2 separate regions of the Homo sapiens genome follow, and region 1 is reported to be linked to region 2. Evidence: microRNA targets listed by miRTarBase, many of them from high-throughput screens and not tested one by one. Region 2 holds a microRNA gene; the other region holds the end of a gene's coding sequence.

Region 1 (7,104 bases), not on the chromosome of region 2:
AAAATGTGCTAGATGCTGCAAAGTTAAAATGAGGCTTGCTGCCCCATGCACACACTCCCTTCCCCCAGCTTTTGAGGTACTAGTCTAGCAGTGGAGGTGGGAATTATTTTTCAGTTGTCACCCTGAATAAAGGGTATCTGTAGACAAATTTAACTATTGATTTTAATTGGCTCAAGGCAAAATACCCTGAGAGATTTGTTTAAAAGGCTCATTTTTACACTCCTCCTGTTTAGGGAAATGTATGTGTGCACTCAGGTCAATTGGGGATGGGGAAAGGGTAAGAACGTGATAGTTGCATAAATCCTCTCGTGGCATAGGGTCAGAGAGCCAACTTCTGACCTAAATAAAAAGCACTGGAAACAGAATCTCATAGATGTTTCTTTGATTCATTCACTTATATGGGAAAGCTTATCCTCCAGTAGCTTCCTGAGAAAAGGTGCATGAGAGACAAACTTGTGGGAGTTTCCAGTTTAAAAAATGTCTTCGTGGTAGCTTACACTTGACTGAGAGTAGGCAGGCGAGAAATCTATTATATTTCTTTCAAAATCTTGAAGCAACTGCTTATGTCTAACGCCACGCTTGATTCCCAATCCTTCTATGTGACCAGCTTTTCATGTTGGGGAGGTTCTCTAGTGTTGAAACTTCAAGATGGCGAGCCTTAGTACAAGTCCTATTTTCATCCATTGTGTTGTGTGCTCCCATACCCTATTATTCTAGAAACTCATGTGTTTAACGATTTCCTCTCTTCCACTTTCTGTTCTTTCTGGAGTTCCTATTACTTGGATATTGAATGGTCCTGGTCTGATCCTAATCTTTTCCTTTCTTTTTTCCTCAAATTTTCAGGTTATTTGCTAAATTTCAGCTTCCAACCATGCTACCGAATGTTTAATTTCCAAGAACATTTTCTTGTTAACAGTTCCTTTTCTATAGTAGTCTATCTTTATTCTACAGATGCCTTTTCTTTTCTCATCTCTCTGGAGATATGACAGGTTTTTGAAGCTTCTTCTCCATGTAGTCTCTGATTCTTCCAAGTTGTTGGTTTTGGGCTTTTCATCCACGTTAGACACTTTCATCAGATATCAGGTTATCCTTGGTTAAGATGAAAGACTAAAAAGCTGATAGGGGATTGCTGACTGAGAGTTTCACTTTTCAGCAATGGTTCTCAATTTCATATACACAGTGAAAGCGCCTGGGGAGTGTTAAAAAATACTGATGCCTCTGCAATACTCATTTTATTGGTGTAGGGTACGAGAATTTTGAAAAGCTCTCTAGGTGATATTAATGTACAGGTTGAAAAGTACTACCCAAGAGTGCTCTGGCTGAACCATTTCATTGAAGATTTTTAGATTTTTAGATTTCTTTTTTGTTGTTCCCAGCCCATGAGGCTCTTTGTAATGTTCTTCCATAAGCCTATGTTCACTAATTTGCTTTTGATATGGTGCCTTCATTCTCAACTGTGGATCGTGTCTCCCAGTCCAGGGACTTTCTATTTGAACCTTCTCCTGAGGATACACCTCTAGGCTTCTGCAAGAGTGATGGAGGTGGGTGGGGAGGAGGGACATTTTTGTCCAGCTGAAAAAAAAAAGGGGGAGGGATTTTATTGATCTAACTGCATTTTAAACAGCTTTCAACCAATACTATTTTAGCCTCCTCTCTCTCTTCACTATCACTTCAAAGGGATATGTTGCTGTCAATTTTTGAGCCTTTAGGGTATCCTGCATTGAGAATAAAAACACTGATGCTCATTTTCTCCTCTGCCAAATTAGAATTAAGTTTTGTTGATCATATTTCCAAAATTCTGGTGCCAATAACTCCTCTTTCTTCCCAGTCTTGAGGGTTGAGTTGTGACTTAAAAAAATAAAAAATCCTTTACTTTTAGTGGTGTCAGGAGCATTCAAAATTTGATGTGCTCAATTTGTCATCTTTACCCAGAATAATTACCATGCTTCATATAAGTGAGGTTCAATAAAGTGACAGTTTTTTTTACCCATTTTCCTGAAAAATAAAAGAGATAGTGGGAATTCCTACTAAGACAATCTAAAATCACAAAACCATGGCCATAGCAGGAACACTGTGTTTTATTGCTGTTGTTGTTGTTGTTGTTGAATGAGACCTGCAGGAAAGGACATGAACACTCTATAGAGTTCGTCAGGGGAGAGGAAGCACCCAGTGTGCCAGGTGAACAGAGGGAGATCTGGACTGAGTTTTGGTAGACAGATAAAGTATTAGGCAACAAGGTACATTATCCACAGAGACTCTGATAAAGGATTAAACTGGCAGCCTGTATAGTCCACAATCACCTTTTAGTTGGCCCATGGAGGAAATCTGGATATTTAGCTTCTTTTGAAACATGGACATATGTGATTGTGGCTCACAGTCCTCCAAGGCCTTGGTCAGCAAGAGCTGAGCTGCTGCTGTCTCTGCAGAAGGCCACCTGCCTGGCCTCCAAAAACACGTGAATTTTCAACTAATCTGAATGTGCTTTAAGTATTTAAAAGGGAAGAATAAGGCTGGGTGCGGGGGCTCACACCTGTAATCCCAGCACTTTGGGAGGCCGAGGCGGGCAGATCACGAGGTCAGATCGAGACCATCTTGGCCAACATGGTGAAACCCCGACTCTACTAAAATTAAAAAAATTAGCCGGGCGTGGTGGCGGGCACCTGTAGTCCCAGCTACTTGGGAGGCTGAGGCAGGAGAATGGCATGAACCCGGGAGGTGGAGCTTGCAGTGAGCCGAGATTGGGTCACTGCACTCCAGCCTGGGCGACAGAGCAAGACTCCAACTCAAAAAAAAAAAAAAAATTATCCGGGCATGGTGGCGAGTGCCTGTAATCCCCAGCTACTTGGGAGGCTGAGGCAGGGGAATCACTTGAACCTGGGAGCTGGAGGTTGCAGTGAGCTGAGATCGCGCCACTGCACTCCAGCCTGGCGACAGAGCAAGACTCCGTCTCAAAAAAAAAAAAAAAGAAAGAAACAACAACAACAACAACAAAAGCAATCCTAGTCATGGCAGAAAAACCCTATTTAAGTCAGAAAGAATTAAAACATTTATTGGGCATAAATATATTACATATACACTACAGATACAGTTAGGTATTACATATAGCATAATATTTGCAAAATCTATACATTAAAATTGATATGGCAGTTTTAATACAATGTATATGAAATAGTCTAAAATTTACAATACAGGAAAACATGATTTTCTTTTTCTCCTAGAGTTGAAAAGCTTGGAATGTATGTCCAACAGTGAGGTAAAACATTTTATCTTTCAATTTAAAGAATTGTGCAAGGATAACATTCAAACACATTCAATTAGGGCACTTCTCAATTTTGACATGAATACTGAATTATTGTAGCCAACAAAACAAGGTTAGAAAATGCCAACATTTCAAGTTGATAAGAACAAGGCAGAGAATATGCAAAAAATCTCTTTAAAAAGTTTTCTTTTTCAACAATTTCTTTGAGGACAAAGGGCAGTTTGCTTCACATGACTGGAATTTCTTGTGCCAGGGATGAGTTTGACATACAGAGAAGAGTCAGAGCATCAGAAGGCCACTCATTCACTCCTCACATAGCAAAAGGGCAAAGAGATCAGGTTAATAGAACACTTTATTTTATTGTTCGTGTGTGATGGCAATATATATAGTTATATATCAATATCACATATACATATTTGTGATAAAAAACAGTGCCATAGAGAGTAATAATTTTCTGACTGAAGGAATATAATGAATACCAAATAATGGAGAGCAATAAAATAAAGTGCTGTCAGCTTTGTACTTCACACACTTCAGCTTCCTGGTGGTTAAATGATAGTATGAAAATCTCAAGAAGATCAAATATTCATATAAATTTTGGCCTAAAGTACTATTTACTTAAAAAAAAAATTCAACCAATTAGAGAATTTCTTTATAGCAGCAGTTCTGAAGTGTTTCAAAAAAGAGACTTCCCCAACCCCCCAAGAGGGGGCTTTGTACTCAGTTGAATTTTCATTGCTTAAAAAATACCTCTCCCCAAAACACCTGCATGGAATTTTTTAGAAAATGCAGATGCTGTGGTCATAGTGGGTCATAGCACACATTTAAATAAGGGGGTGAGTTTTGGAAGGCCAGAACTTTGGCAAAAATATATTTACCTTGATGCCATCAGTTTGCAAAGCTAATTAAACTAATTATTATAGTCAATAATAAAATACAGAACTCTCTAGTACTCACTACGTCAATATAGGCACACAGAATAATTCATTGATCTCAGCATTTTCTTCCAAGAGATGATTATGGTTTTTGGGTACATGTAAACGTTTCAATCACTGATAATGTATTTTTTTTTTGGCATTTAATGCACTAGATGCTCTTATCTTTTTAAAAACATAAGAAAATGTCAGAAGATTAATAATACTACAGATGTTGCCAAGGAACAAGACTGACCTAAAATTACAAAAGTATAAAACACAAAAATATAACATGCTACAAGGGAAAATTAGTACATAAGTACACTTAAAAAATTTTACAATAAATAAAGATTGCACTGTAATTGGCATTTAAAGTACTGTATGCAGAATATAGTATAAATAAACCAAAAACAAAATAATGTTTGTTTCCCCATGACTTTGGTATGGGAATATTATAAGCTAGTACAGGATACTGCATCTTAGACAATAAAGATCAAGCACAAAATAGCTATGATCAAGAAAAACCAAGTAGCAAAAATATACAAAAACAGAAGCAGGGGGATACACTGTGTCTGTTGCACCCTTTTGGAATATATTTGCACCTCCAACTCTTAAATGTCCCTGAGGTACTCGAACATTATGGACTTCATATAAATAATCCAATGACTTTGGGTTAAAATTGATTATCTCATGACTCAAAATAAACACGTAAGAGTAACACTTTGCACTCCAATAGCACCTGTTGGTCAAAGATCTCAAAGCACTTACAAACATTAGAATCCCCGTTTTATTTTATTTTATTTTTCATGCATGGGAAAACTGAGGCACAGAGAGGTAAAGTGACGTGTTCAGGTCACGCAGCAAGTTAGTGACAGATCCAGGGAGAGAATCTAGGCTCCTTGATCCCCAAACACCCTGTGTTTACCATCAAACACCATTCCCTCTCCAACCATGGCCAGGCAAACCCACAGAAATAGGAACTACAAATTTAGATGACTCTCTTTTGGGTTTTATCAATTTTCATCTGCTGTTACATTAGTATTATGTGCACTGAATTAAGGTATTGAAATTCAATCACTTCATTGATACCTCAAAGAACAGCCTAAAGGCAAATGTTTCAAAAATAATGAGCTGACACATAAGAAGACTGCTCACAATTAGTGTAAATCATGGACAATGGGCAGAGGCACTAAACTGTCACCAGTTCTTGTCATATAATTCTGGTCAAACATAACAGAATATAATAACTCTAGTGATTAGATTAGAAGTAGTTATATACAAAGACAAACAAACAAGTTAAAGCAGCCTTTAAAATAGCTGAACAAGAAAACAACTAACTATTGCACAATGCCCTCTTAAAGTTACTGCTATGAATTGATGTGGTAAAATCTACAATGCTCCATAATTTATAGGTGCATTCTGGTTACTTGATTTCTTATACAGGCAGCTCATAGTGTTAAAATTATAAGAAATACAGATTATTAAAACATTTTAGATTAAAGTACACATTTTGATTTAAATGAGCTAAACACAGTTAAATAACTGAGTGACAAAATGGTTGTTTAGGGCAGTCTTATCTGAGTGAACATATCTTCTGTATGTTGCTGTTGCTGTGTGGTAATACTCTGACAACACTGAAATCCTAGCCCTGTAAGTACACACACGGTGATTCATGTTTACAGATACAGATGTTCAAGACATATGAAGTGACTGGTGAATATAAATTACTAAACTGTAACAAAAAAAAAAAAATCAAAGGCTTGCAAAAGACATCAGTGAAAACAGAATGAAGGTAAATCTGAAAATTTAAAGGAAAACATAAGAAAGCTAGCTTTTGGTATCTGGTATACTTTTCTTCTTTTTTTTTCTTTTTTTTAAAAAAAAAAATCCAGTTTAACCTTTTCCTAGTTTTGCATTTCAAAAAGGTGCACCAAAACACTGACATTTTTTTTCTAGCTAAATCTGTAAAACAGAGTATATAAATCAAAAAACAAAAGGGCTTTAAAAAGGGGAGTATCTGAATAAATGTGTGTATTAAAATGTGTAGCATTAATTCATACCTCTAGTTTTGTTGGGTTTACTTCATTAAGAAGTACTGTAATATAAAGGCAAATAAAATGGACAAAGTTGCAAAGCCAAGCACAATGATGGCTGCAAACTGTTCATCAGTAGGCATCATGCTCTTCATTTTGGGATCATCTAAGCTCCCCATGTCCCCTGTAAGCATGACCTCACTTCGTTGTAATACAAAAGCCGCAGAGGGGCTGAAGGCTCCGCTTAGCTCCTGAGAGGTGTCTAAACAGCGACGACACGCACATACGCGGAACCTGTAGTCTGTGTTGGTCTGGAGGCCTGAGATTTGGAATGTGGCTTCTTCTCCCTTGTACACCTTCAGGAAAAGAAGAGTCCTAGTTAATTAATTTATAGCAACACTGTTGTCTCTAGAAGAATCTTGGTTTAGATTCACTCCATTCACTCTTGGTTTATATTCACATTCACTCTTATAACAAAGATGATATAAAAATGTACTTCTCTCAATCTGTATTCCAACCATAAAAAGGGTATTCCAACACACTTTGAATGAAACAATATAAAATCCAGTGACTCGAACTTTGACAGAAGGAGATAAGGCACTGACTAGAAATGCAGCTGACATTTTAAGTAGTAAGGATGCATCTCACTAAATTTTAATAATTTAGGTCAGCGGTCCCCAACCTTTTGGGCACCAGGGACTGGTTTTGTGGAGGACAAGTTTTCCACGGACAGGGGTAGTTTCAAAGTGAAATTGTTCCACCTCAGGTCATCAGGTGTTAGATCCGCATGAGGAGTGCACAACCTAGATCCCTCGTATACACAGTTCACAATACGCTTCATGCTTCTGTGGGAATCTAATGCCTTACTGATCTGACAGGAGGCAGAGCTCAGGCAGTA
Region 2 (7,118 bases):
CGCAGCCTGGCTACGGTCACCCTGCTGGCTACCCACAGCCCATGCCCCCCACCCACCCGATGCCCATGAACTACGGTGAGTCCTGGAAGGGCAGATGGAAGGTGGGTGGGAGGGACAGCACTTGGAGCAGATGAGGCCACCGCCTCCTGCCCCTTTTCTCTTCTAGTTTCCCTTAAATCCCTTTCTCATCTTCTCTGTTGAGATCTCTCCCTCTGTTTCTGTCTTTGTTACCCTCCACTTTTTGCCTCAGCAACTGGCCCCCAGCCACTTGCTGCCCCCTTTGTTCAAGGAGATCCATGAGGCATGTCCCAGAACGTACACACCACAGGAGAATGGGGCTGGGCCAAGTAATGACTCCTGAGGGGTTACCTCAGGGCACCAGCTCTGTTTCCCAACAAGCGGCCAACAAGCTGCTGCCACCTCCCAGACCTGTCGACTTCCTTAGGAACTCCTTTGGGAACCTGAACCACTTTCCTCATCCTTTAAAGTGAAATCTGACTTTTGCAAAAGACATTTGGAGCCAAGTTTGGTAAACATCATGGCAGGGACATGCTTGTGTTTGGTCAGAAATGAGGTGAGGCCGGCCGCGGTGGCTCACGCCTGTAATCCCAGCACTCTGGGAGGCTGAGGCGAGCAGATCACCTGAGGTCAGGAATTCGAGACCAGCCTGGCCAACATGGCAAAACCCCATCTCCACTAAAAATACAAAAACTTAGCCGGGTGTGGTGGCGTGCACCTGTAATCCCAGCTACTCAGGAGGCTGAGGCAGGAGAATCGCTTGCAATCCCAGGAGGTGGAGGTTGCAGTGAGCCAGGATCGCACTACTGCACTTCAGCCTGAGCAACAGAGCAAGACTCTGTCTCAAAAAAAAAACCAAAAAAAAAACAAAAAACAAAACAAAACAAAAAAAGAGGCCGGGTACGGTGGCTCATGCCTGTAATCTCAACACTTTGGGAGGCTGAGATGGGCGGATCACGAGTTTGAGACCAGCCTGGCCAACATGGTGAAACCCTGTCTCTACCAAAAATACAAAAAATGAGCCGGGCGTGGTGGCATGCGTCTGTAATCCCAGCTACTCAGGAGGCTAAGGCAGGAGAATTGCTTGAACCCGGGAGGTGGAGGTTGCGGTGAGCCGAGATCACGCCTTTGCACTCCAGCTTGGGCAACAAGACCGAAACTCCATCTCAAAAAAAAAAAAAAAAAAAAAAAGGAAATGAGGTGAAGTTAGAGTGCAGTGAGTCTTCCTGGGTGGCTCAAGCGTGGATTTTAAAAGTAGTTCCCAAAGAGGCATTCAGGCATTCAGGCATTCAGGGAATGTTTGCAGCCCTGCAGCATCTCTGAACCCCAGAGGGGTGTCAGCCAGCTCTCACCTGGACATGTGCGCTGGTGCGGATCTGCGCATGGGTCCTGCACAGTCACGCACACCCTTTGCACACCTGCCTCTGTGAGGCTGATGCAGATCCCTGTCTTCACCTCTATCCCTGCTGCTGCACAAACTGCGCTCTGCCGCCCTCCTTTTCTCCTACCCTCTGTCCCCATCCCCTGTTCTGCCCTGGCTGGCTGCCCCAGTGGATGCCCATACCTGCTCCTGCCTGGCTTCCCCACTACATCGTGACCCCCCAGTGAACCCCCAGTGGCGTGGGCTGGGCACACAGGAGCCCTCCACAGATGCACGTGAGGAACGTTTCCCACCTAAGCCCCCTCGTGACAGGCCGGCTCTGGGTCACTCTGAGGGTGTCTAGAAGACCCCAGCTTGGGAGAAGAGTTCCTGTTATAACACTTGTCTTTTGGCTGGAGATCCCTGAGACTTTGAGATTGTCAGGGAGGCTTTGGGATTGACGCCACATGTCTCAGGTCCCCAGCTGAGTCAAGTGTCATCTGTCCCTAGGCCCAGGCCATGGCTATGATGGGGAGGAGAGAGCAGTGAGTGATAGCTTCGGGCCTGGAGAGTGGGATGACCGGAAAGTGCGACACACTTTTATCCGAAAGGTAAGATACGCGCTGGGAGGTGGGTGTACCTGGGGCCCCTCAGGCTGTGGGAATGGGAAGTGGGTAGGCCACAGTAGCCCCAGGGCATCAATTCCATGAAATACACTGGCTGCCTGTCTTCTCTAGCCTTGTCTGCTTCTCAGAGGGGCACCTGGCTTCTCTAACCCCAGGGTTCCCTCTCTTTTTGCACCTCTCTTCTTGACCATGTTTTGGGAGGACACATTCAGTCTGGGAGAATCTCCTAGGTGGGTTCTGCCACAGCGCCCGCCTTCCCCAGACATCTTTCTCCCTTTAGACTATAGGCAGCTTGGAGCCAGAAATGATCCTACTCGCTTGTAACCCACCCTCTCCATCTCACAGCTGCATAGAGCGTGCAGACTGAGCTGCTGGGAGTGCAGAGGCCATACTGGTAGAGTATGGTGGCCAGGCAGGGCAAGTCAGTAGTCACCGAGGCTGGTGTTGGACAGGAGGGGAGATGGCAGGGAGCATGGGAGCGGGGCTGAGGAAGAAGTGCACATTGCCTCTGAGCCAGGCATCTCACTGGGGTCGCCTCTGGGCCAGGCTGCAGCTAGGGAGGGTTCTTGAGTGGGAGGAAAGTACTGGGGGCTGGCAGCTTCCTGGGGCAGGCCAGGGGTGCCGGATGGTGACCCATGCCCGGCCGTCTGTGTCCAGGTTTACTCCATCATCTCCGTGCAGCTGCTCATCACTGTGGCCATCATTGCTATCTTCACCTTTGTGTAAGTCTCTAGGCTTTGCCACCCACTCCTACTGCCCTGGGGGTTCAGGGTCACCTGCTGGGGGTGTGGGTGGCGGTGGGCCCTGCTCTCAGGGTGACCATGGGCAATTAGAGAAGGTGAAGCCAGGGCTGCCTGGCTGGCCTGGGTGGGGCAGACAAGCCTCAGGGTGACTACTCCTGTCCTCCTGTGCCCCACAGGGAACCTGTCAGCGCCTTTGTGAGGAGAAATGTGGCTGTCTACTACGTGTCCTAGTGAGTGTGTGCTCCTCTGTGGTTGGGCAGGGAGGCAGGGGTGGCAGCTTCTGTTTCTAGGTGACCAGCTTTGCTCAGGGCAGGATCAAAATGCTTTTTGAGAGGGCCCCCAAGTTGGTGCCAGTTTCCCGTGCCAGAGGGTGTGGGTGTGCGTGCCCAGATGAGTAGCAGACCCCTAGAACTCGAGAGCAAGAGTGGGACCTGCTGGTGGTGGCGTGCACGCTGCGCTGCAGCCCCCATGTCCTCTCAGCCCGTCAGCTGCAGCCTCCCCAGACCTCCTTCCTGGCCGGAGCCTGGTGCTTCAGAGCATCTCAGTGACCCTGGCTGGGGGTAATCTCGTTCTTGCTTCCTGTTGAGTTGCTTCCCCTCAGACTTCCAAACGGCTATTTGGGCCCCAAATCACTGGCCTGGTGTGTGCTGCCAAGCGGGGCAGATTTGGGCCTGAACTGCTTCCCCATCTCTTTGTCCCTAGTGCTGTCTTCGTTGTCACCTACCTGATCCTTGCCTGCTGCCAGGGACCCAGGTGAGTCCCAGAGACTTAACACAGTGAGAGGGGTGACAGGGATTGGGATGGGGGCCGAGTATTTTGGAAAGAAGGATTCCTTTATAGCAGCTGAATGGAAACTTACAAGAAATGAGGAGGAGGATGACGATGACAGCTACTGTTCAGGTGTATACAAAGGACCATGTGTGTTTAGGAGCTAACTAGCTGTCACTCTTATAGTAACCCTGCAAGACAGGTAGCATTTTAGCCAGTTAACAAATAGGAAGAACCCGAGGCTCAAAGAGGCTGAGTAACTTTCTCCCCATCACACAGGCAGTCAGTTTAAGAGTTGCAAACCAATCCAGGTGTTTCTGGCGCCACAACACAGGTCTGTCTCATTGGCCCATGTTGTCCCTGCGTACCACACCTGAACAGGTGCCAAAGGCCATGCCAACCTCCCTCCTTGGAGTCAAGGCTTAATCCTCCAGGCACAGGAGCCAAGCGCTTCCTTCTGCTGTAGGAGCCTCTGACGCCTGAGGGGCCCCAAGTCATTTAATCAAGGCTTCTCTTTCCCTTCAGACGCCGTTTCCCATGGAACATCATTCTGCTGACCCTTTTTGTAAGTCTAGAAGGGTGGCAGGAGGGTGTGGAGATGCTGTGAGGGAGACTGCTCCCAGGGAAGGGATGGGGACCCATTTCAGAAGGATGTCCTGGCTGTCTCCTCCACCTTATCTGGGCCGCCTGTTCTGATCTCCTCTGTGGCTGCCTCTTTCCAACTTGGTGGCGTTCCCCAGCTCTGGCAGAGGCCACCATGGCCACTCCCCCAGCACCCTGCCTTCCTTCCTTTTTAAGTGTTTCATTCTTGTCTCTCTCCTTCCCTTAGACTTTTGCCATGGGCTTCATGACGGGCACCATTTCCAGGTACATTCAGGGATAAAGCACCACTCTTGGGAAATGTGTATTGTGGGGAGTGGGGTGTTCCTGGGCCGGCAGCCAGCTGCGTGGGTGGATTCTGGGCAGGTCCCCTCTGGAAGTGGTGATTTTGAAGTCATTCATACGTGGCTTAATGCCTCTTGTCTGTAACTCCTGCTTCTCCCCAGTATGTACCAAACCAAAGCCGTCATCATTGCAATGATCATCACTGCGGTGGTATCCATTTCAGTCACCATCTTCTGCTTTCAGACCAAGGTGAGGGCATGGAGGGCCCTTCCCTGGCCCCCCGACTCCCCTTTCTTATCAGGCCCGGACCCCGGCACACTAGGGATGTTCCCTAGAGACCTGATCCCCTTCTCCTCATCCGCACCTACAAAACTGTGTCCTGTTTCTGTCCTTAGAATGTTGTGGACATTCCCATACCCCCTAGGAGGCAGCACTGGGACTCCCTGGCAGGGCCAGTCTGACTGGGCTGGTTGTCACAGCCATCTGACAGGTGCCTCTTTCTTGCTTCCTGGCAGGTGGACTTCACCTCGTGCACAGGCCTCTTCTGTGTCCTGGGAATTGTGCTCCTGGTGACTGGGATTGTCACTAGCATTGTGCTCTACTTCCAATACGTGAGTGTCCCAGGAGAGCTGGGGTCAGGGAACCCAGTGCTCAGGGCAGACTTCCTATATAGCATGGTCTCGCAGGCCCCAAAGGTCCCCGGGGCAGGCTCTGACCTCCAGAACCTCTCGACTGGCTAGCAAAGGCACCAACGTGGAGGCAGCATCCTTCTGGGTGAGGGTAGACTCTCTGTGTGGAGATGGGCGGCCTTGGAGCCAGAGCACCTGAAGCCCTGGACTGCATCACTGCACTCCTAGGGGAAGGGGTGGGTTCAATCTGGCTGGCAGCTGAGAATCAGGTTCTCGGAGGCAGACTGGGAGAGGAACCCAGAGGACTGAGATGATGGGCCTAGGTGGAAGGGACCTTGCGGGGGTCTCTGGATCCAATTATTTCCTTTATTCTGTTCAGCTGGGGGAGAACAGTGCCGAAGGGGAAGGATGGGGACACGAGGGCTGCCTGCCCATGGGCCAGCTCTGTCCTTCTGTGGACGGCCACCTGTGGGCATGTCATGTGGGCTGTCCTGTGGGTGCTCCCGGATTTTGATACTCACCAGAGGGGTTGGGGGGCCTCCCTTCTTCCTTAGTCTACCCCTCCCAGGCTGGGCTGTAGGAACTGGTCTATTGAATGCTGGGTCTGCCCCTTTCAGAGCTGTAACTCAACTGCTTTTTTTCTAGAAGTATAGTAGACACTTGTGTACCTTGACTGGCTTTGGAGATTGGTTTTATACAGCCATTGCAGGATGGCCTCTGCTTTCTCTGCTGGATATATCACCAGTCTTAATTTCCTCCAAGATCTGGAAAGGCAGTAGCCTTTCATGGAGAGCTAGCTTCCCAGCTCTACCCACTCTCATGCCACTATCCCGGGGGAAGCTGGGGCCTGTGGGCCTGTGGTTTGCTGAGGTTTCTAATGCCATTCTCTGTCCCCTTCTTCTCCAGGTTTACTGGCTCCACATGCTCTATGCTGCTCTGGGGGCCATTTGTTTCACCCTGGTAAGTCCCAGCCCCACTCTAGGAAGGGGAGCTGAGGGGATGAGGGGAGGAATCTAGGGAAGGGGGCATGAATTTAGACTGCCTGGGAGGCAGGGAATGGGGCCATAGCAGGCCATTCCTCTCACTACTGTCCAGAGATTCCATTGATTTTTGTGGGCACTCTTGCCATCTCTTGTTCAAGCTGCCTGCTATTAGAACACTAGTCAGCCATATTGAGAACGGTGTGTCTGCCTCCTTTCCTAGACTGTGAGCAGCTACAGTATAGAGCCCATATGTTATGCTGTGCGTTAATGTGGCCCTAAGCACTGTGTGGCGCATAGGCCCCCAAGACAAATCTGCTGACCAAAAATGAGCTCTGGACACTGATGCCTGAGTTCTCACTTCTGGCTTCCCTATCCTTGCAGTTCCTGGCTTACGACACACAGCTGGTCCTGGGGAACCGGAAGCACACCATCAGCCCCGAGGACTACATCACTGGCGCCCTGCAGATTTACACAGACATCATCTACATCTTCACCTTTGTGCTGCAGCTGATGGGGGATCGCAATTAAGGAGCAAGCCCCCATTTTCACCCGATCCTGGGCTCTCCCTTCCAAGCTAGAGGGCTGGGCCCTATGACTGTGGTCTGGGCTTTAGGCCCCTTTCCTTCCCCTTGAGTAACATGCCCAGTTTCCTTTCTGTCCTGGAGACAGGTGGCCTCTCTGGCTATGGATGTGTGGGTACTTGGTGGGGACGGAGGAGCTAGGGACTAACTGTTGCTCTTGGTGGGCTTGGCAGGGACTAGGCTGAAGATGTGTCTTCTCCCCGCCACCTACTGTATGACACCACATTCTTCCTAACAGCTGGGGTTGTGAGGAATATGAAAAGAGCCTATTCGATAGCTAGAAGGGAATATGAAAGGTAGAAGTGACTTCAAGGTCACGAGGTTCCCCTCCCACCTCTGTCACAGGCTTCTTGACTACGTAGTTGGAGCTATTTCTTCCCCCAGCAAAGCCAGAGAGCTTTGTCCCCGGCCTCCTGGACACATAGGCCATTATCCTGTATTCCTTTGGCTTGGCATCTTTTAGCTCAGGAAGGTAGAAGAGATCTGTGCCCATGGGTCTCCTTGCTTCAATCCCTTCTTGTTTCA

What was found. The annotated mature microRNA hsa-miR-6513-5p reads UUUGGGAUUGACGCCACAUGUCU and lies in region 2 at 1,829-1,851, shown strand. An mRNA with a match to its seed (bases 2 to 7 or 8) in the 3' UTR can be bound and repressed. Matches are read on the target gene's strand: a 7mer-m8 pairs with bases 2 to 8, a 7mer-A1 pairs with bases 2 to 7 and ends in A, and an 8mer does both.
Region 1: miRTarBase lists FNDC3B as a target of hsa-miR-6513-5p. Seed matches in the 3' UTR shown: 7mer-A1 at 2,546-2,552.

Annotation. Positions count from the first base shown.
Region 1 is chr3:172,396,622-172,403,725 of GRCh38, reverse strand. It overlaps FNDC3B (fibronectin type III domain containing 3B), which reads right to left. Exons shown (of 26, transcript NM_022763.4): 26 at 2,057-6,562. The coding sequence ends at 6,251. Among named protein-coding and RNA genes, the nearest start is that of GHSR, 48 kb to the left of the region's middle.
Region 2 is chr2:218,274,897-218,282,014 of GRCh38, reverse strand. MIR6513 (microRNA 6513) reads left to right here and starts at 1,827; the gene lies at 1,827-1,890. The region is part of intron 2 of PNKD (PNKD metallo-beta-lactamase domain containing); the gene reads right to left. TMBIM1 (transmembrane BAX inhibitor motif containing 1) reads left to right here. Exons shown (of 12, transcript NM_022152.6): 2 at 1-75; 3 at 1,889-1,989; 4 at 2,662-2,726; 5 at 2,924-2,977; 6 at 3,450-3,500; 7 at 4,041-4,080; 8 at 4,345-4,382; 9 at 4,562-4,649; 10 at 4,916-5,011; 11 at 5,936-5,989; 12 at 6,394-7,118. The coding sequence ends at 6,540.